7 linked regions of the Homo sapiens genome follow. The protein of the gene in region 2 purifies or fractionates together with the protein of the main gene of each other region. This does not show direct contact. Each region holds a gene or a part of one and is shown on either strand. Other genes may lie near its edges. The genes, in order: ZNF106, KLHL40, GNL1, CEP85L, ZNF746, ZNF81 and KIF2C.

Region 1 (3,500 bases), on a different chromosome or scaffold from region 2:
GGTCTCGCTTTGTCACCCAGGCTGCAGTGCAGTGGTGCAAACACTGCTCACTGCAGCCTTGACCTCCTGGACTCAAGCAATTCTCCTGCCTCAGCCTCCCAAGCAGCTGGGATTATAGGCACATGCCACTATGCCCAGCTATTATTGTTATTATTTTTTTGAGACAGAGTCTCACTCTGTCACCCAGGCTGGAGTGCAGTGGCGCAATCTCGGCTCACTGCAACCTCCACCTCCCGGGTCCAAGCGATTCTCCTGCCTCAGCGTCCTGAGTAGCTGGGATTACAGGAGCACGCCACCATGCCCAGCTAATTTTTGTATTTTTAGTAGAGATGGGGTTTCACCATGTTGGTCAGGCTGGAATTATTATTATTACTAATAATAATTATCAATAATTTTTGTATTTATTTGTAGAGACAGGGTTTCACCACATTGCCCAGGCTGGTCTCAAACTTCTGGGCTCAAGGAATCCACCTGCCTCAGACTCCCAAAGTGCTGGGATTACAGGCATGAGGCACTGTGCCTAGCAACATTCCAATTTTTCAAATTTTAAATGACTTATCCAAAGTTATATAGGCTACTAATGGAAGGGAGAAGATTTGAACCCAGGCCTTTTGATTCCTAATCAAAACTCTTTCCATAACATATTGTCTGTTGCTAAACATTTTTGGGATGCACAGTTTACAGACCTTTCTATAGAAGGAAGAAACTGGCCAGGCGTGGTGGTTCAGGCCTGTAATCCCAACCATTTGGGAGGTCAAGTTAGGAGGACTGCTTGAGCCCAGGAGTTTGGGACTATCCTGGGAAACACTGGGAGATTCCATCTCTATAAAAGCATTTTTTAATTTTTATAACTTTTTATAATTTTATATAACTTTTTATAACCTTTAAATTTTTACAATTTAAATCATAATTTTATAAAATTAAAAGTTAGAAATTTTAATAACCAGGCATGGTGACACACGTCTGTAGTCCCAGCTACTGGGGGGAGTGAGGTGGGAAAATTGCTTGAGCCCAGGAGGTCAAGGCTGCAGTGAGCCATGATCGTGCCACTGCGCTCCAGCCTGAGTGACAGAGCAAGACCCTGTCTCAAAAAAACAAAAAAAAAGGATGAAACCAAGGAGACAGGAGAGAAATAACATGACCTTTTCATGACTACTTTTCATCCCCTCAAAGAGAACAAAAAGGCCTGGTGCAGTGGCTCATGCCTGTAATCCCAGAACTTTGGGAGGCTGAGGCAGGCGGATCACCTGAGGTCAGGAGTTCGAGACCAGTCTGGCCAACATGGCGAACCCTGTAACCCTGTCTCTACTAAAAATACAAAAATTAGCTGGGGGTGGGGTGGGCACCTGTAATTCCAGCTAATCAAATGCTGAGGCACGAGTATCACTTGAACCTGGGAGGCAGAGGTTGCAGTGAGCAGAGATTGCACCACTGCACTCCAGCCTGGGAAATAGAGCAAGACTCTGTCTCCAAAAAAAAAAAAAAAAAAAAAAAAAAGCAGAGAAAACAAAAAAGTAACACGCTATAGAGGGCCCAATCCATCAGATGCCCTCTGAATACCTTGTAATCCCTGTAGAATCTGTATTCTATGGGTCCTCAGTGCACTCATCTCCATAGTTATCTAAAAATAAAGTATTTTATTAAGCATTTTGAAATCCAACTTGTAAGGTCCTCTAGGTCTCCCCATTTTTCTTCTATGTCCTGACCAAAAATCAGAGTGTCTTGACTGCTCTGTGACCCAGCCAGCCGCAGGTTTTCTCCAGCAGGCTTGAACCCTACCTGGGGCCTTGAAGATTCCCAGGCACTGATAAAAGTATCTAGGTTGTTGCCCAAAACACTGAAAGAAATTGGCCCTGGCCCTGAGCCAAATTCCTTAAACCCTCATATAAACTCCACATCCCGCCCCCTGGCTGTGGATATACCTAGGGAGAACACCCTTGTGGGGACTGCTGCAGCCTACTCTGTAAGTAAGCTCTCCTAATAAATGCTTTGGACTCATCACCCTGGCATTTAGTGCTTCTTTCTTTGGAATCCTAACTGTCCCCCATTAGGCACAGTCTGGGGCACTTCCCTTGTGGAAACTCCCCTGCCATTGCTTTTGGGGTGACTCCAGACATGGGTTTGGCAGCACAAAACAAGATTTCGGAGATGATCCATTTTTATTAAATCCTCCACATGCTGTTACCTGCTGCTTGAGCATAAGTAGCCTCTGAACTTCCACATAAGCTGTCTGAAGGGCTGCACGGGCTTGCAGAAGATTGTTATCCATGCACTGCAATGACTTACTAAGTTCTTCCTCCCTTAAAGAAATATTCAGCAGCTGGTCAACCTGAGAACGTTCTGCCAAAAGAAATCATAAGGTTCAGGTTAATACGAGAGATTTCCCTCTCATCACACAGCTCAGAAGACTAAACTATACCCATTATTTAGGATAAGACTTTATGTTCTCCTCAGTAGGTCATTGGAAATTCATAAAACATTTAGTCAAGCACAATGATATCAAAGCTAGGAACCAAAAGTGAGAACTGCTAAGATGGAGGTATCTCATAAGCTCCAGTGTACCATCACATCATTCTGTCTCATCTAATCACCGCCTTCTACCACCACCTTTCCAGGTGAAATCTGTCCCATGCAAACCACCTGTTCTAGGACTCGTTTCCCATTCTTCCTTTATCTACCACTGTCTTCACACAGGACTTTTGCTTAGATTGGACTCTAGACCTAGACTGCTTGCACTCTCTTTCCAATCCATATTTAGTCTGTTAGTTGACTTAAAAATTGTTTTTATTAGAGAAGACTTCCTGAAGAAAATACAGCTTTGAAATAGTACATTTAACTTAGTTTGAATAAAATGTTCTGTGTATGTATTTACCATCATTGTGTTTGTCTGTTTCCTATTCAATATGCCAGGACCTCTCCCTTAAGCTCCACACCCACATATCCAACTACTGACTATGATATTTCTAGCTAGGTTATCTCAAAGGTCCTTTAAGTCAAAGAATCCCTGAGGGAATTCATCATCTTTCTCTATTCTCAATCTGCTCCTCTCATGGAGTTTTCTAGCTCTACATATGCTCCATCTGGTTGGCCCAGCCAGAAATGTGGGTTGTCCTTGACTCCTCCCTTATCCATCACATCCACTCACTCAAGCCTCATCCAATCACTTCCAGGACTAGCCCTTATACTAGAACTGGGTTAGAGTCAAGGAAAAGCAAGAATCACAGAAATACATCAATGAGGGAGCAATGTTAATAACTTCTTTCCATAATTCACTTTAGAAAAGCAACCAAGGAAGGGAGTGTGGAGGTGGGGCAGCGGGGAAGCAACCAAGATGCCTCAAAAACTGAAAGTGAGAGAAATGGCTATACATGACCAAGAGGGCCAACACATTTCATCCCACTGAAAAGGCTCAAGGAAACTTCCTGGCTTTATATTGTCCAAGTGGTATACTAACCTTGGCTTACAAGTCTATGTGACATCATATATTTCTTCTACAGTTG
Region 2 (2,254 bases):
GCACCCACAGCTCCAACTGCAACCCTTTGCAATCCAAGTCCCAGGCACCCATGCCCCCAACCCCATTCCCCTTCCCTGTCCCTCTGGTCTTCCCTTCCTTCCCCATTCTCTTGCTCCTCCACTTTCCTTTCCTTGTCCTCTTGCCATTCTATCCAACCTGTCCAGCAAAGTCCACCATGGATCTCCCCACTGCCCCTACTCCTCTCCTGAACTAACTCCACCCTCCAACTCACAACCCCAGCCCCTAGCAGGCCCCCAGCCTTGCCCTGGACGCAGTCCTTTTGCCCCTCAGCGGCCCCTGCAGCCCCACCCACCTTGCACACCTGCTCTATCCTTCTTCTCCCTTCACAGCCCAGTTGTTCTCAATGTATCTTCGCTACCCTGGCTCCTGCCTTGGGCCTTAGTCCCATCCTCCAAAACTGACCTTCCTGAGGTCCACAGTCACTGCACACGCACTGAGGTCCTACAGCACACAGCCCTGCTGACGTGACTTTCCTCACCCATCTCTTCGGCCTCACCTTCGTGGCCTCCTTCCTGGATAATGCAGCTGCCTCCACCATCAGGGCTTGGACCTCAGCTCCTCCCATTTACACTCTCTCTCCTGAGGGAGCTTGGCCCCTCCGTGTGCTACTGACCCCCAGATCTCTCCCTCCAGCTCAGCCCTCTCTCTCCCGGGTGGGGTCCTTTTGGACACCCCCAGGTACTTCAAGTCCACATGTCCTAACTGGACCCTCACTTTCCCTACCCAATCCCAATGATTATCCAGTAAATGGCCTCCCACCCTCACTCAGAAGCATGTACTTCTCCCCCTCTCACCCCCACATCCAATCAATAGCTAAGCCCTGTTTCTCCCACCTCCTAGACTCTTGCTACTCAAAGTGTGGTTCATGGCCCAGCAGCGTCAGCATCTCCTGGGGGTGCGTTAGAAATGCAGACTTACAGGCTTTCAGCCCTCCGCATACCGAGAATCAGAATCTGCACTTTAAGGCGATCCCCAGGAGATTTGCATGCCCATCACAGTGTAAGAAGCCCTGGCCTGTCTTTGTCCGGTGCATCCCCTCAACCCCATCTCCGCTGTGCCCCCAGCTCCAGGCCTTTATCACCCCTGACCTTCCTGACCCCTGGGAAATCCCTAATCTGCTCTCTATATCAGTTGCCATGAAGTACTTTAGTAGAACACAGATGAGATACAGTCCCTCTCCTGCTGGCCCCCGCTCCAGCCCCAGCACCGCCATCCCAACTCCATCACCCACCCACCTCCACCCAGCTGGAGCAACACCTTCCCTCCTATAGGCCTTGAGTTTTTTCTCCAAACTGCCTCAGCACCACCTTTCCTTAGTCTGGGGCAACCTCCTCCCACCACCCTCACCCCTTTTGCGAGCTGAGTCCAACTGTCTCTCAGTTCAGTTTTCTCTTTTCTGATGTCCCAGGCAGGGCAGCTTCTGTCTTGTTCACTGCTATATCCCTTGCACCAGGCCATTGCCTGGTATGAGTCCCTGAATGAGGAACCTGGCATCCCCTCCCCCAGCCCTGGGAGCCCCCTCCTGCAGACCAGGCTGGCCATAACCCTTGCCCCGCCTCCCCACCTCACTGCTGATCAGGAGAGAAAGCCTATTTCTATACTGATGTCCAAAGTCAACACTGGAGACCCAAGACAGGGACTGCAGCTCCTGCTGGGGCTGACAGAAGCCCAAAGCCATGCAGTTGTCCTTGGCGGAAGGGACAAGCTTTCATACTTGTTGTCTGTGATGCTGTACACTTCGGCAGAACTGGTCAGCCCTGTGTCGGTGACCCCAGCTGCCACGATAATGCGGCCATCATGGACAGTGGCCCCAAAGAGTGAGCGGGCGGTCTGCATGGGTGCCAGCTCCTTCCACTCAAACTTCTTGGGGTCATAGACGCACATCTTGTTCAGGCACTTCCTGTGGGGTGGAGGGTGGGGATGGGTGGAGAGAAGCAGGAGCCCAGCCACGCCTCCCTGCAATCACCTGCCGGGGCAGCCAGGACAAACCCCTGACAGCCTCTGGGAGATTCTACCTCTGCTCCACAGACTCACTCCAGGCCCAGCCTCACCTGTCACTGCCTTTGCCGCCAATTACGTAGACAAGGTCCATGTGGGAGAGCACTGTGTGGCCATACACCACGTAAGGCAGCGGGTCCGATTCACCCCATTTGAATGACCTGGAGGAGACGGGAGTGGGGGTGGGGGAGGGCACCCATCCAGGCTCGGCTCAGTCCCTGTCTCTGCACCCAT
Region 3 (3,500 bases), on a different chromosome or scaffold from region 2:
TAGCCGTGTGTGGTGGTGCGTGCCTGTAGTCCCAGATACTCAGGAGGGTGAGGCAGGAGAATTGCTTGAATCCTGGAGGCAGAGGTTACGGTGAGCCAAGATCATACCACTGCACTCCAGCCTGGGTGACAGAGCAAGACTTCGTCAAAAAAAAAAAAAAAAAAGCCATGGAATTGGATGAGATGTAGGAGAGAAAGGAAATAGTTGGAGAAGAGGAGGTCAAGGACTGAGCCTTAGGACAAGCCAGCATTTAGTTGGGCAAAGGACAGTGAGAAGGAGGAAAACCAAGGGAGCGTCCCAGAAGTCAAATGAAGAAGGTGTTTGAAGAGGAAAGGAGGAATCAGCTGTGTCAACTGTTGCTGACAGGCCAAATGAGAGAACAGAGAGCTGCTCAGCAGGCTTGGCAATGTGAAGATCCGTGGTTTCAGTGGGGTGGAGAAAGCCAAACTGGAGTAGGCCCATGAGAGAAGGTGCAACAACTTCACATAACATTGTGTGAAAAGAGTCTGACCCAATAGCATCCATACTGCACAATTTCAGTTCTATCAAGTTTGAAAGCTGCAAAATTAAGCTGCATTGTTGAGAGATACACAGGTCATAAACTAAAGAGAAATGTAAGGAGTTGATTTCCTTAAAAGGATAAAGCTTGCATGTATAGAGGGAGAGGATTATGATCAAGAAGGATGAGTGGCGGCCGGTATGGTGGCTCATCCCTGTAATCCTAGCACTTTGGGAGGCTGAGGCAGGCGCATTACTTGAGGTCAGGAGTTTGAGACCAGCCTGGCCAACATGGCAAAACCCTATCTCTACTAAAAATACAAAAAGTTAGCCAGGTGTGGAGCCGCACGCCTGTGGTCTCAGCTACTCAGGAGGTTGAGGCACGAGAATCGCTTGAACCTGGGAGGATGAGGTTGTAGTGAGCCAACATCGCACCACTGCACTCCAGCCCGGGTGAGGGAGTGAGACTCTGTCTCAAAAACAAAAACAAAAAAAACAAGGACAGATGGAACATGTTGTCACACATTGGGTGGTATGGGGTTCATCAGGCTGCACATGTATGTTCTGTGCATTTTTTTGTATGTTGTAGTTTACAGTTACAAAGAAGATAGCAGGAAGAAATGGTGAAAAAAGTAGGTAAGTCTTTTAAGGAGTTTTCCTGCAAAGCGGACAGAGAACTAGGTCTGGTGGTGGTCGTCAAAGGAGAACTTTTTTCTCCCTCCTTCCCTCCCTTCCTCCTAGATACTTGCATGTGTTGTAAAGAGTGAGCACAGTGGTACATCTTTTCTTAGCCACAGTCAGCTGCCCAGGAGCAGTGCTGAATGGGCAGAGCTGGATTTTACAGGGTTGGGATTTTGCCAGGTGAGTAAGATAGAGGGGAGAAGTGGGACCAGGGAGTTCCAGGTCTGTGAACGGGCCTGGCTGAGGAGCTGGATCATGAAATCTGAGTCAAGTAAGAAGGAAATTGAGGACACGAGTTGGGTATTGCATAGTGTTACTGTGTTAAGGTCAGGGGTCAAAGACTTACTGGCATGGAGTAACCAGAGTAAGTGAGCTGGAAAGATGAGTTGTCAGGGCAGAGAGGGGTGCTTGGAATTGAGGCTTTGGAGCTGTGAAGTGACAAGATGCAGGTATTACCATGGGAGTGGGCAGCTGAGGTGGGGTAAAGGAGATGCTCTGTGGAAGGGAGATGAAGGCACTGAAGTCAGCCAGAAACACAAAAACTGGTGGTGGTGAGTGAGCAGAGTGGCAGTGAGCCCCAAGGCTTCCAGTTTTCTCCTTGGACAAGTCATCGTAATTATTATTATTATTTTTTGAGATGGAGTTTCCCTCTTATTGCCCAGGCTGGAGTGCAATGGTGCAATCTCAGCTCACTGCAACCTCCGCCTCCTGGGTTCAAGTGGTTCTCCTGCCTCAGCCTCCCAAGTAGCTGCAATTACAGGCGCCCACCACCACGCCCAGCTAATTTTTGTATTTTTAGTAGAGATGGGGTTTCACCATGTTGGCCAGGCTGGTCTTGAAGTCCTGACCTCAGGTGATCCACCCGCCTTGGCCTCCCAAAGTAATCACGCTGGGATTACAAGCGTGAGCCACTGTGCCAGGCCAAGTCATAGTAATTATGAGATGTGGATCACTGGTACTGGGTACTTACTGTACTGCAGGCACTGACCCACACAAGTTGTATTGGTTATCTCATTTAATCCTGACCACCCTGAGGTAGGGAGGTGTCCACACTGTAAAATGAAGAAACAGAGGCTCAGAAAGTTAGTTGCCCTGACATCACAAAGCTGGTAAGTGGAAGGGCCAGGATTTAACCCTGGCAGCCCAGAGCGTGATTTGTATTCTGCAATACCATTTCCTTAATTTCTGAGCCTTAGTTCCCCTTTTACCTATAGGTATAGCACCAAGTCCCATCACAGAGTAGAAACCTGTTAAACGTTAATTTTCCTTGCCTTCCTCAGGTTTCCCTAATGTGGGAAAGTCCTCGCTGATCAATGGGCTGGTGGGGCGGAAAGTCGTGAGTGTCTCCAGAACCCCGGGCCATACCCGATACTTTCAGACCTACTTTCTTACCCCCTCTGTGAAGCTCTGTGACTGCCCAGGCCTCATCTTCCCATCTCTTCTGCCTAGGCAGTTGCAGGTATGACGGGGAGGGTGGGTAAGGGAAAGAGAGAAGGTGGGACATTGAGGAAAGTACTGAGTGCTCATTTCCCTCAGGTTCTGGCAGGGATCTACCCTATCGCCCAGATCCAGGAGCCCTACACTGCTGTGGGCTACCTGGCCTCCCGAATTCCCGTGCAGGCCCTGCTCCACCTGCGCCACCCAGAGGCTGAGGACCCCTCAGCGGAACACCCCTGGTGTGCCTGGGACATCTGTGAAGGTGAGTTCCATGTGCCTGGCTTCGCCCCACCTGGTTTCAGCTGCTCTTCCTTACCTGCCTCGCCTTTTACCCTTCCCTGTCTCCTTTCCTCTCCTCAGAGATTCTGCCATTGATGAAGCTGCTGTCCACTCACCCCTAGATTTTTGTTGCATAGCCAGTAAGATCTCTGGCCTGGAATGTTTTGGGGAAAACTGGAAGGACTGTGTTATGGGAGTGGGAGTATAACTGGTACCTGGTTAATGCTTTCCCTTTCCATTATTCTTTTCTTCCTCCAGCCTGGGCAGAGAAACGTGGTTACAAGACAGCCAAGGCGGCTCGGAATGATGTGTACAGAGCAGCCAACAGTCTCTTGCGGCTGGCAGTGGACGGCCGCCTCAGCCTGTGTTTTCATCCCCCAGGCTACAGTGAACAGAAAGGTCAGAGCCCAGATATTCTTCCCCAGCCCCCTGCTATAGCGTAGGTAAAAGGGTGTGGGCTTTGTGGCCAGAGAGAGGGTCAAACCTGGATTCTGTACCTGTTGGCTAGCTCTGTTACTTAACATCTGTGATATTTTCCTGATCTGCAAACTGAGGGTAATAATTGACCCTTAGCATAGTGATTGTAAAGATTGAAGTTGATGTGC
Region 4 (3,500 bases), on a different chromosome or scaffold from region 2:
AAAGCAAAACAGTATGATAGAATTTGAGAAACCTCAAGAAAATCAGTATCTAGCTCTAAAATGGTAGAGTACAAACTGTGACAAAGGAGAGTACCAAGAAATAAGGCTATAGAGGTAGGTAGTAGCTACCTATCTTGACCACAGAGCAGTGTAGGCATTAGGAAACCAGGTTCATAGTTTAGACAGATCTGTCTGGCAACAATGTAAAATGGATTAGGGGGAGGGGATGAGAAAGATGGTTGTCAGAGAGACCAGTATAGGTGACGGGTTATGAAAACTTAAATTAAGGCAATAGTGCAATGGAGATAGAAGGGCAGGAATGTTAGATGTAGTAAGCAGATGACAGAACTGATAGCACTCAATCATCATCAACTTGAGTGATGGGCAGGGATTGGGCACAGGCGCCAGATGAAGGAAAAAGCAGAGTGGAGAATAAATTCTGGGTTCAAGTGACAGGTGAATGGTGGTGTTACTCACTGAGAAGAGGAACCGGTTCAGGGAGGGAAGGAAAGTGTGTTCTGGTTTTGAATGTGTAGAGTCTGTGATGCATTTGAAATAGCCAGTTCTAATATACATGGGAATATAATCTGGAGCCCAGAGGAGATAAATGTCTGGGTAAAGGAGATAAATGTCTAGGTGAAAGGTATGGCAGTAACAGAAAAAACAGGAGTGGATAAGATCACTCAGATAAAGTACTGAATAAAAAGAAACAAACACAAAACCAGTAACAAAAGGCTTCTGGGGATACCAATAATTAAGTGGCAGAGAAGTCCACAGAAGACAGAGACTGAGCAGTCATAAAGGCAGAAGCAGAACCTAGAGAATGATGTCATGGAAACCAAGGTAGTGCACAGTTTTCAGAAGGACAGGGTGAGTAAATGGAGCCATGAAGTGACTGGTTTTTCACAAATCAACTGGCTGGTAAAACTTTCACAATGCCAAATATAAGGTAAGGATTCTGGGGTCAAACTTTAAAGACTAGAAGGAGTATTGGGAGGTGGGCGTGGTAAGATTCACATTAGGATAGCTCTACTACTCTATTACTGAAAAACTTAACAAATGCTACCTTATGACAGTGAAAATGTAGGAGACTCTAAAGTAATTAAAAGGGTGACCAACTCTAAAATCATGAAGAAAGTGAGTTCCCTTTGTGTGTGAGCTTTGCTTCTTGCTCCCAAGAGATATTAAAGCACTCCATGTTCACCAGGCAAACTTCTCCTCTTCCTCGTCTGAGAGCGACACTGAACACCAACTACTCTGTGGAGTCTCCACAGCCCTTCCCACGTAGATTTAGTTGTTTTTTTCCTCTTGTGCTCCCACTGTCCTTTGTCCACATCTCAACTATAGCACCTATCAGAATGCTCTAATAATTTGGTTAATGTGTGGACAAGGACTGTGTTCAGGTTATCTGCATTACCAGCACTTACTTAGTGTCTGGACCATAGAAGGCATCTGATAAATGTTTACTCCGTGAGTGAATATACTTAAACATTATGTGTTTTTTCGATATCCACATTTGTGTATGTGTACAAATGTCTATGAAATGAAAGGGACATAGTTGAGCACAGATAATGTTTCATTTAACAAGTGATATACTTTGGTCAAGAGCATTATTTGATTTGCCAAAATAACTATTATGATGCAAAATGGTGGAATCTTTTTGATGAAACTAGAAACAAAATCAGTTTGTTTGAAACAAAACCAGTATTATTAACCATAATATTAGGCAGCTACTAAATACACGTTGGCCCATAAACCTTATTATATGGTCTTACTGCATTCCTATTTCCTTCCAAGTTCATTTCTTCTCTATTATAAAGAGACTAACATCCTGATTTGGAACCACGTACAGAGATGAGCGTTTCTGCAAAAGTAGCACAGAAAGAAAGGGACACTAGGATTATTACTGTGGCAGCTCCCACAATTATGTGTGGAGGAAGACAGAATTGAGGCCAAGAGTGAATGGGTGTCACATTAAGCCAGCAGGTACGCATGACAAAGGCAACAGATTTGTAGGCTGTGAAAACTGGCTCATGTGAAATCACTGGCACTCACGTGAAGCAGCTGCCATAGAACATATACTGCACTGGAAAGCAAAAATATTTCTCAAATATTTTACCAGTGGACAATATGGTTGGGTCACTTAATCTATACAACTAACACATGAAAGCAAATAGAAGGAATCATTATTTTTGGAAGAGAAAATGGGAAGTCACACCTAACTACCACTCTATTCACATATTTACAGATTCAACATAGGAAACATCACCAGGCATTCTACCAAGTGGCAGTTAATGTCAGCTATAACCCTACTCACTTCTTGCAATGAAGTAATAACAGGTATACATAAACCCACAGACTGATTCTAAGTAGGAAAAGAGATTACAAAAATAAACAGAGAAAAGGCAGTCGGAAGTTCCTGATTCATGAAGATAGGTTTCTAATTGCCACAAAATAAGGACAAGTCATCAGACACTTACATCTTATTCCCAGTAATAATGAAAGATTAGGCTCCTTGCCCTGAGCACGCTGATTAAGAATACTACACAATGCTTTCAAGTCAAACAAACAACAGGACATTTCCTTGAACAGCTGATCAATCACAGTCAAATCAAATAGTGGCCGTTTGGAAAGAACTGTCTGCTGCCTAGATTGGTCAGGTTCCTGGCCCTGATCCAATAAAGAGCATGTCTCATCTGTTTGTCTTTGGTTCTGCAAGGATAAAGAAAACAAACATCAGATTGTTAGAACAGAGGAAAGGTACTCAAAGCCATACAGGTTAACATTCTCCCCCAAGTCTATAAACAAAACGATGGAGTCATATTATATGCACATTAACCAAATTCAACTACATATATGCAGTGGGAAAAAAAACACATAGAAAAATAACAATTTAAATAGTGGAAATTGTTTCTCTGTGCCATCTGATGCTTTAGCGTATATCCAAGGGAGGAAACATAAATCCAGTCTCAGTTTCTAGGAGTCTCTCACGTAATAAGCATGTTGGTTGTGTATGTATTTTTCTTTTTTGGGCCTCAATCTGTCACCCAGGCTGGAGTACAGTGGCGCAATCATGACTCACTACTGCAGCCTTGACCTCCTCGGGCTCTGGTGATCCTCCCACCTCAGCCTCCTGAATATCTGGGACCACAGGTAAACACCATGATGCCTGGCTAATTTTTGCATTTTTTGTAGAGAGAGGGTTTTGTCACATTGCCTAAGCTGGTCTCAAACTCCTGGGGTGAAGTGATCTGCCCACCTCAGGTTCCCAAAACAAAGTATTAGGATTACAGGTGTGAGCCACCATACCCAGCCTGTATTTTTCTATAATGAGATTTATTCCAAGGATAAAAAGAACTAAAAAGTAACTTTGAACCTCACTCTGTGGTTTTTATTGTTAGTAGCAATAGTGGTTTAATTACTTTGAAACTACTTTTTGCATATTGGTGGGGGGAAGCATCTATGTTAATGTTGATAGGAACCACAAACTTCGGTGCGAG
Region 5 (3,500 bases), on a different chromosome or scaffold from region 2:
AGAGAAGCGGCCTCACGGTGATATAGGGGCCACTGGAACAGGGCCAGAGAGACACCCAGGGACAGCATCAGCCACCCGAGAGAGGCTCGAGACAAGTCCTTTAGTACAGTCCTACCTCGAGACGGGAAAATTTCTAAAGTTGTCAGGCCGGAAGTGTTGAGGGCCCACAGCTCCCCCATGCTGCCACGAGCCCTCCCCTGTCCCTCCTGTGATCCCTGCAACTTGTTCCTTATGTCCCCGTCTCAGCCACTTACCAGAGGTGGCATCCGTGGAGATGTCTCCTGCTCCGGAATCCAGCTGGCTGAGGCCCCAGGGCTCCTCCCCAATATCTGGCTGCCCGGCTGCCCACGCCTCCACGCCCAGGGCCTGCTGCTCCTGGAGCTGGAGCTCACCCTCCTGCTTGATCTGCATCAAGAGGTCTGGGGCGGGAACTGGGGGCCCCGAGCCTAGGAAAGGGAGTGAGTGTGAGGATACAGCATCACGGCCCCTCAGCCCTGGGGCATACACGCATCCAGCCGGAGAGATAGACACAGGGGCCTTACAAGGGTCCAACAGCAAAAGAGCCTGGTGGGAAGGGAGGCAGCAGCAAACAGGATGGGAGCCTAGGGCAGAGCCTGAGGTCACATGGTATTGGGAATGCGGGTAGGGTAGGAAAGGCTGAGGCGGGGGAGGGGAAGAATACACAAGCACATTCTCAGGGCTAGGCTGGTGGTCCAGAGGGAGACTAAGTTGCCCTGGGGATGGCCTGCCCTCACTTGAAACACAAGAAATGCTGAACAAAAGTGAACCCCAAGTCCCCCCAAAACCTTCCCCCCTCATATATTTAAGTGAGTGCAAAAGAAAAGATCCCAGAGGCAAGAATGACAGAGAACACACAGAGTCAATCACGAGTTACAGTGGAAGGCAAGTGACCTAGAGAGTTGTTGGAGTAGGATACAGGCCTTAGGGGCTGGGCTTTCATGTCCATGTGAGGTTGGGAGTGTGGCCGAGCCGCCTGCCTGAAGCCAGGAGTCATAGGCTCTGGCCTGTCTGTGAGATGGGGACTAGGAAAACTCTGTCTGCCTGCGGGAGCCACCAGGAAGCAGCCTACTTGTCCAGGGCTATGTGTGGGAAAGAAACCCATAAAAACTTGGAATCCCATGTCCACACAGAATTCACACTACCCACACGGGCAGACACCATAAACTGAGAAATTCACAGAAAAATTGGCTGAGAGCCATGGCAACTCAGGAGGCCCCAGCATGGGCAAATGCAGATCTGCCTCAGAGGGGCACCCACACAATGCAGTCCACAGGGGGCTCCTAAGGGAAAACTAAAACCAGAAGAAAAACTAAAACTTACAAAACAGAAGAGGTGCCAAATGGCCATGAGAGTCATGGCAGAGTTCACTCCCAAGAACTAATGAAAAAAAGGAGAGGCTGAATGATACAGTAACCTAAGTATGTCTAAGATCATCAAAGAGATAAAGAACAGAATCTTTAAGGCAAGAACAGCAAATTATTTTGAAAAAGGCAGATTTGAAAAAGAACTCAACATTCTAGAAACGACAGAGGCAGCTGTGGAAATGAAAAACTCAAATGGATGGCTCTGGCTCAACAACAACAGACTGAACACAGCTAGAGAGAATATTAGTGACTTGGGAGAGAGATCCAGGGAAATAACCCAGAGTACAACACTGAGAGATAAAGAATGAAAAATATGAAAAAGTTAAGAGACCTGGAGGACAGAATGAGAAATTCCAACACATGCTGGTAGAAATCCCAGAAGAAGAGAATGGAGAAATGAGTAATGGCAATAGGTAAAGAAATAATGGTTGAGAATTTTCCAAAACTGAAGGCATTGTTAAGTCCACAGTTTGAAGGAACAGACCAATTCCCAAGTAGGTAATAAAACAAACAAACAAACCTAGACAACATTCATGTGAAATGGAACCACAGCAAAGACAAAGAGAAAAACCTTAAAAGGTACCCAAGAGAAAATAATGACATTCAGACTACAGGAGATTTTCTTCAGCAACTAGGATATCAGAAGACAATGGAATATCTTCAAATGTTGAGAGAAAACATCTGTCAACTCATTTTATGAGGCTAAGACAATTTTTATTGCACAAACTAGAGGGGTAGTATATGAACAAATTTAAAAAATAATCTCATATATGAACAGATATGCAAAGATTCTAAATGAAAGAATTACAAATCAAACTCAGCAATATATTTTCAAAAAAGAAAAAGACATATTATGAACACATTGGGTTTATTCTGAGAGCTCAAGGATAACACTAGAAAATATAACGAACAAAGTTAAGATTAATAGCAAAAACAATATAATCATCTCAACAGATGTAAAAACAGCATTTAGCTCTTCTATTTCTGACATATGGCTGGCTAGATGTGCAGAGAAACAGAAATTCCTCCCAATGTGGAATATCTAAAATTGCTGAGTAGGCTGGGTACAGTGGCTCATGTCTGTAATCTCAGCAGTCTGGGAGGCTGAGGTGGGAGGAGCTCTTGAGCCCAGGAGTTTGAGGCTGCAGTGAGCCATGTTTGTGCCACTACACTTCAGGCTGGGTGACAAGGTGAGACCCTGTTTCAAATAAACAAACAAAAAAAGCCAGCCTAGGCAACATAGAAGACCCTGTCTCCACAGAGGGGAAAAAAAAAAGTTTTTAAAAAAAGTTAGCCAGGCATGGTGGCATCCCCTGTGGTCCCAGCTACTCAGGAGGCCCATTGTGGCCCAAAAACTTCCAGGTCAAGACTGTAGCTTGAAGTGGTCCTAAGTCTGCATTGGCATCAGATGACCAGCTGAGGAACACACACACATTCTCAGGAGGAAAGCATTTTAAACATAGCTTTCAAATAATCAATGAGCTCACAATTACACATCACCATCTCGAGAAAATCAGCACCACAAACTCAGCAGAAATCATGAACTGGAGAATATGACCAATGACTTTGGATATTAAAATTATCATATAAGGAATATAAAGTTCAATTATTTACAGAAATAAAAAGGGGGAATGAAAGTATGGAGAAATAAGACTATCAAAACTGACCAAATTTTGAAAAAGAATCAAATGTAACATTCTTTAGAATGGTGAGAAAAAATAACTGTTGTTTTGTTTGTTTGTTTGTTTGTTTGTTTGAGATGGAGTCTCGCTCTGTTGCCCAGGCTGGAGTGCAGTGGCGCGATCTTGGCTCACTGCAACCTCTGCCTCCCGGGTTCAAGCAATTCTCCTGCCTCAGCCTCCCCAGTAGCACTGGGACTACAGGTGCATGCCTCTAGGCCCAGCTAATTTTTATGTATTTTAGTAGAGATGGAGTTTCACTGTGTTGCCCAGGCTGGTCTTGAACTCCTGAGCTCAGGCAATCTGCCAGCCTCGGCCTCCCCAAGTGCTAGGATTACAGGCGTGAGCTACCGCGCCTGGCTAATAACTGAAATTTTAAAATCCAATGTGTAGGTTAAACAACAGAATGGAAATGATTGAATGGTGAATAGTGAAC
Region 6 (3,500 bases), on a different chromosome or scaffold from region 2:
CAAGGATCGCTTTTCTTCCAGTTTGCAATAATATGTTCCTTATTTCTATCTGAGATCTCACTAAAAGTACCTTTAACATTCATGTTTCTACCAATAGTCTCGTTAACGCAATCTAGGCTTTTTCTGTCAAGCATATCAAAACCTAGCCCCTAGCTCCAGCCTCTACCCGTTACCCAATTCCAAAGCCACTTCACATTTTTAAGGTATTTATCACAGCCACACCCCATTTCCAAGTGTAAAACTCTGTATTAGTTTCCTAGGGCTGTTATAACAAAGTACCACAAACTAGGGGGCTCAAAACAAGAGAAATTTATTGTCTCACAGTTCTGGAGGCCAGAACTCCAAAACCAAGGTGTTAGCAGGGCCATACTCTCTTTGAAGGTGCTAGGGAAGGAACTGTTCCAGGCCTCTCTTAGCTTCTGGTGGCCTCAAGTGTTTCTTGGCTTACAGATGTATCATTCTAGTCACATTCCATCTTCTCCCTGTGTATCTTCATATTGTCTTCCCTCTGTGTGTGTGTTTGTGTGTGTGTGTGCGTGCGTATGTGTATATGTGTCTGTGTCCAGTTTTCTCCTTTTTATAAGGACACCAATTATATTAGATTAAAGCCCACCCTAATGATCTCATTTTAGCTTGATTACTTCTGTAAAGACTCTATTTCCAAATAAGGTCACATTCTGGGGGGCTGGGGTATTAGGACTTCAACATATTTTATTTGGGGGCACAATTTAACCCATAACAGGCTCCTCACAACTTCACAGGATGGTTGTCCTTACCCACTGAGAGCAGGTGGCTGTAGTTCTCCAACATTACATCCTGGTACAGGCGTCTTTGAGTAGAGTCCAGTTGCTGCCACTCCTCTCTACTGAAGTCCACAGTCACATCCTCAAATGACACTGATACCTGTAACAACACAATCTTGTTCAAGGCAACATGATCAGCACTGGAGGATGGAGAGAAAACAGATAGGAAGCTCTTTTTGATACTTTTTCATCATAATATACGATATGGTATGCCCATTAAATACTTAGTTTATATATATACACATATGTAATATTGTGTAGAATATAAAAATCTAATCATAAATTTCTGCTATTTATTATGTATGACATTTACTCTTCCATTTATTAAAAATTATAATTTTTAGTAAGGATTTGACCTTGATCCTATTTTGTTGCTCATTTTTATGAGAAATTTGTGCCCTATAACTTGTAGAAGGAAGCACATATATCCCTTCCATCCCAATTTTTAAAAATTTCACATAGCTCCCTCTCCTGTTGCTTTCATTTACTCTTCAAAAATATGGCCTCTTTCTCTTGATGCCCTGTTATTGCTCATTTCTAATTTAATTCCGTCATGGTCAGAAAGTATACTCTGTATGATTTCAACATATGGTCTATCTAGGATAATGGTCCATGTCTCCCTGAAAAGAATATATATTTGGCTATTGATGGCTGTATTGTTCTGTAATGTATAAATCAAGTTGGTTGAGTGTTGTTGAAATTTCCTGTTGCATCACTGATTTGTTTTCTACTTGTTTAATCACTTATTTGTCAAGATTTTGGTAAAAACTGACAAATGTTAAAGTTTATATGGCTATGCGAAGGACCCAGAATAGCCAAAAGCAAGAAAAAGTATGAAGGATTTATACCCCCTAATGTTAAGATTTACTGTAAAGCTACAGTAATACAGGCAGTATGGGATGATGTATGCACAGACAGATATATCATTAGAACAGAATAAAGTCCAGAAACAGACCCACACATGTACGGACAATTGTTTTTTGACAAAAGTGCCAATGTGATTCAATGGGCGAAAGTGAAGTCTTTTCAACAAATTGTGTTGGAAGAGATAGATATCAGTATTAGGAAAAAAGCATAAACCTTGACCCACGCCTCACACCATATACAAAAATTAACAAAAATTAAGTTTCAGTATGACTGCATTGCTTTTATCAGACCAACCTTCATACACATAACAACTATAAACTCTGAACAAAAAATATTTTAAAAACTATCTAAAGATACTAAGGAGCAACCCAAGTCAGGCATCTATGGGAGGAGAGCTGACACTTAGAAGAGAGGCTGGCACTTTAGCTTGTGAATAGGCCCAGTCAGTGCCACGTGGGGTAACTAAAATTCCAAGAGAAGTGGTACATGCCTGTGGTCCCGGCTACTTGGGAGGCTGAGGCGGGAAGACTGATTAAACCTGAGAGGTCAAGGCTCAGTGAGCTATGATTGTGCCACTGCACTCCAGCCTGGGTGACAGAGTGAGACCCTGTCTCAAAAAAAAAAAAAAAAGAGAGAGAGAGAAAAGAAAAGAAAACCACCAGTGTTATTGACTTGAAGAATTGAAGGGGAGTTCTGCAGTCATCACTACCATTGGAAAATCAAGGGGGAATCCAGAAAGGCATTGAAAGAGAGAAGGGTGCCTAAATTCTGTGAATGAACTCTGCCCAGATCTCTGATTGACCAGCTGAATGAACTGGAATTTGAGCTACCACATACCACAGAGAAAACATTTCCTAGTTTGAGTCTAGCCAAGTTAAGTGCTCCCTACACAAAGCAAAACAAAAAAATCAACAATAGTCAGAGGAATTAAACAGAATCAAGCATCTCTAATGTATGTTTCACAACAAAGATACAATCCAAAACAACTCAACAGAGAAAGAGACAGAAAGGTGTGGAGAGAAAGGGAAGAGGCTCAAGAGAAAATGCACTCAGAGACTGACCTGAGGTGATCCAGATGCTAGAATTAGCAGAAAAGCACTTTAAATCAGTTAGTTATAATTATGCTCAAAAACATACAAATATGTTCATAATGAATGATTAAATAGGATAGGCCAACTAAGAAATATAAACTATTTTAAAAAACTGAAAAATACAATCTGAAACTAAAAAGTTCACTGGATGGGCTTGACAGAAGAATAGAGGTAACTGAAGAAAGAGGTAATTAACTTAAACATAGACCAACAGAAATTATCCAATCTGAAAAGCAGAGAGAACAAAATTGAAAATAAAAACAAACGGAGTCTCAGGGATGATGCTATGGTTTCAATGTTTGTTGTCCCTCCAAAATTCATGTTGAAATTTAATCCCAATGTAACAGTATTAAGAGGTATGACCTTTGGAAGTTATTTAGGTCATGAGGGCTCATGAATGGGTTAGTGTTCTTTTAAAAGGGCTGGAGGGAACTAGCTACATCCTTCCTTTTTGACCTTCCACACTTTCCACCACGTGAGGACACAGAATTCACCCCCTCTGGAGGACACAGCAACAAGGCGCCATCTTGGAAGCAGAGAGCAGCCCTCACTGGACACCTAAGCTGCTGGTGCCTTTATCTTGGACTTCTCAGCCTCCAGAATTGTGAGAAATAAATTTCTATTGTTTATAAGATACCAAATCTCAGGAATGTTGTTACAGTAGGACAAACAAACTAAAACAGATGAGTAAGACAAAAATCAAAAGATCTAACATACATGCAATTTAAGACCCAGAAGG
Region 7 (2,215 bases), on a different chromosome or scaffold from region 2:
TAAGACGGAGTCTTGCTCTGTCGCCAGGTTGGAGTGCAGTGGCGTGATCTCGGCTCACTGCAACCTCCGCCTCCCGGGTTCAAGTGATTCTCCTGCCTCAGCCTCCCAAGTAGCTGGGATTACAGGTGCCTGCCACCATGCCTGGCTAATTTTTGTATTTTTAGTAGAGACAAGATTTCACCTTGTTAGCCAGGCTGGTCTCAAATTCCCGACCTTAGTTGATCTGCCTGCATCAGCCTCCTAAAGTGCTAGGATTACAGGCGTGAGCCATCACGCCCGGTCAAATGATTCTTTTTAAATAATAGGTATACAACTCAGCCTCCCGAGTAGCTGAGACTACAGGTACGCGCCACCACACCAGGCTATTTTTTTTTATTTTTTAGTAGAGACAGGGTTTCACTATGTTGGCCAGGATGGTCTTGATCTCCTGACCTTGTGATCTGCCTGCCTTGGCCTCCCAAAGTGCTGGGATTATAGGCATAAGCCACCGCGCCCAGCCCGAGTGACTTTATTCTTTCACCGTACTTGTCACCAAATCCTCCTCAATTCTGCTCCCTAAATGGTTTTTTTCTTTCTTTCTTTCTTTTTTTATTATTATACTTTAAGTTCTAGGGTACATGTGCACAACGTGCAGGTTTGTTACATATGTATACATGAACTATGTTGGTGTGCTGCACCCATTAACTTGTCATTTACATTGGGTATATCTCCTAATGCTATCCCTACCCTCAGTTCTTTTTATTATAATTTTTGCTGCACACACCACCTTTGGGATATTTATTTATTTTTATTTTTTGTAGAGATGGGGCCATGTTACCCAGGCTGGTCTCGAACTCCTGAGCTCAAGTGATCTTCCTTCCTTGACCTCCCAAAGTGTTGGGATTACAGGCATGACTCACTGCACCTGGCCAAATGATTATTTTATTTTATTTTTGAGACAGTCTTGCTCTGTTGCCCAGGCTGGAGTGCAGTGGCACCATCTCGGCTCACTATAACCTTCGCCTCCTGGGCTCAAGTGATTCTCCTGCCTCAGCCTCCCAAGTAGCTGGGATAACAGATGCCTGCCACCATGCCTGGCTAATTTTTGTATTTTTAGTAGAGACGGGGTTTCACCATGTTGGCCAGGCTGGTTTCAAACTCCCGACCTTAGTTGATGTGGCCGCCTCAGCCTCCCAAAGTGACAGGATTACAGGCGTGAGCCATTGCGCCCGGTCAAATGATTCTTTTTAAATAATAGATATACGACTGGGCGTGGTGGCTCACGCCTGTAATCCCAGCACTTTGGGAGGTCGGGGCGGGAGGATCACCTGAGGTAGGGAGTTCGAGACCAGCCTGACCAACATGGAGAAATCCCGTCTCTACTAAAAATACAAAATTAGCTGGGCGTGGTGGCACATGCCTGTAATCCCAGCTACTTGGGAGGCTGAGGCAGGAGAATTGCTTGAACCTGGGAGGTGGAGGTTGTGGTGAGCCGAGATGGTGCCGTTGCACTCCAGCCTGGGGGACAAAAGCGAAACTCCATCCCCCCCCAAAACAAACAAACAAACAAACAAACAAAAACCAACCAGATATATAGGCTGGGCATGGTGGCTCACACCTGTAATCCCAGCACTTTGGGAGGCTGAGGCAGGCGGATCACTTAAGATCAGGAGTTCAAGACCAGCCTGGCCAACATGGTAAAACCCCATCTCTACTAAAAATACAAAAAATTAGCCAGGCATGGTGGCACGCACCTGTAATCCCAGGTACGCAGGAGGCTGAGGAAGGAGAATCGCTTGAACCCAGGAGGCGGAGGCTGCAGTGAGCCAAGATTGCACCACTAAACTCCAGCCTGGGTGACGAGTGAGACTCTGTCTCAAAAACATATATATATAGAGAGAGAGTACATATTTTGGGGGGTACCTTGTAAGATTTTCATGCTTGTATATCTAAATGGTTCATGAATCTCATGTCCTCATTCCAATCCCATGAACACGGACACAGTTTGGTCTAGGCACTAGTTTCTCTTTTTTTTTTTCTGAGATGGAGTCTTGCTCTGTCACCCAGGCTAGAGTGCAGTGGCACGATCTTGACTCACTACAACCTTTGCCTCCCTGGTTCAAGTAATTCTCCTGCCTCAGCCTCCCAAGTAGCTGAGATTACAGGCGCCCGCCACCATACTCGGCTAATTTTTTGTATTTAGTAGACATGGGGTTTCGCCACGTTGGCCAGGCTG

Evidence for each region.
Region 1: the proteins of KLHL40 (region 2) and ZNF106 purify together in Homo sapiens (affinity purification with mass spectrometry; 2 studies listed by BioGRID and IntAct, with this or other methods). This does not show direct contact.
Region 3: the proteins of KLHL40 (region 2) and GNL1 purify together in Homo sapiens (affinity purification with mass spectrometry; 2 studies listed by BioGRID and IntAct, with this or other methods). This does not show direct contact.
Region 4: the proteins of KLHL40 (region 2) and CEP85L purify together in Homo sapiens (affinity purification with mass spectrometry; 2 studies listed by BioGRID and IntAct, with this or other methods). This does not show direct contact.
Region 5: the proteins of KLHL40 (region 2) and ZNF746 purify together in Homo sapiens (affinity purification with mass spectrometry; 2 studies listed by BioGRID and IntAct, with this or other methods). This does not show direct contact.
Region 6: the proteins of KLHL40 (region 2) and ZNF81 purify together in Homo sapiens (affinity purification with mass spectrometry; 2 studies listed by BioGRID and IntAct, with this or other methods). This does not show direct contact.
Region 7: the proteins of KLHL40 (region 2) and KIF2C purify together in Homo sapiens (affinity purification with mass spectrometry; 2 studies listed by BioGRID and IntAct, with this or other methods). This does not show direct contact.

What each region holds. Positions count from the first base shown.
Region 1 is NC_000015.10:42,442,642-42,446,141, forward strand, and holds part of ZNF106 (zinc finger protein 106), read right to left. Parts: intron 2,341-3,500; coding exon 2,186-2,340; intron 1,622-2,185; coding exon 1,561-1,621; intron 1-1,560. UniProt on the Homo sapiens protein: RNA-binding protein. Specifically binds to 5'-GGGGCC-3' sequence repeats in RNA. Essential for maintenance of peripheral motor neuron and skeletal muscle function.
Region 2 is NC_000003.12:42,688,537-42,690,790, reverse strand, and holds part of KLHL40 (kelch-like protein 40), read right to left. Parts: intron 2,182-2,254; coding exon 2,074-2,181; intron 1,923-2,073; coding exon 1,737-1,922; intron 1-1,736. UniProt on the Homo sapiens protein: Substrate-specific adapter of a BCR (BTB-CUL3-RBX1) E3 ubiquitin ligase complex that acts as a key regulator of skeletal muscle development.
Region 3 is NC_000006.12:30,546,490-30,549,989, reverse strand, and holds part of GNL1 (guanine nucleotide-binding protein-like 1), read left to right. Parts: intron 1-2,459; coding exon 2,460-2,638; intron 2,639-2,715; coding exon 2,716-2,878; intron 2,879-3,153; coding exon 3,154-3,294; intron 3,295-3,500. UniProt on the Homo sapiens protein: Possible regulatory or functional link with the histocompatibility cluster.
Region 4 is NC_000006.12:118,466,592-118,470,091, forward strand, and holds part of CEP85L (centrosomal protein of 85 kDa-like), read right to left. Parts: intron 2,713-3,500; coding exon 2,481-2,712; intron 950-2,480; exon of another isoform or gene 868-949; intron 1-867. UniProt on the Homo sapiens protein: Plays an essential role in neuronal cell migration.
Region 5 is NC_000007.14:149,477,310-149,480,809, forward strand, and holds part of ZNF746 (zinc finger protein 746), read right to left. Parts: intron 447-3,500; coding exon 255-446; intron 1-254.
Region 6 is NC_000023.11:47,885,402-47,888,901, reverse strand, and holds part of ZNF81 (zinc finger protein 81), read right to left. Parts: intron 904-3,500; coding exon 777-903; exon of another isoform or gene 687-776; intron 1-686. UniProt on the Homo sapiens protein: May be involved in transcriptional regulation.
Region 7 is NC_000001.11:44,763,837-44,766,051, reverse strand, and holds part of KIF2C (kinesin-like protein KIF2C), read right to left. Parts: intron 1-2,215. UniProt on the Homo sapiens protein: In complex with KIF18B, constitutes the major microtubule plus-end depolymerizing activity in mitotic cells. Regulates the turnover of microtubules at the kinetochore and functions in chromosome segregation during mitosis.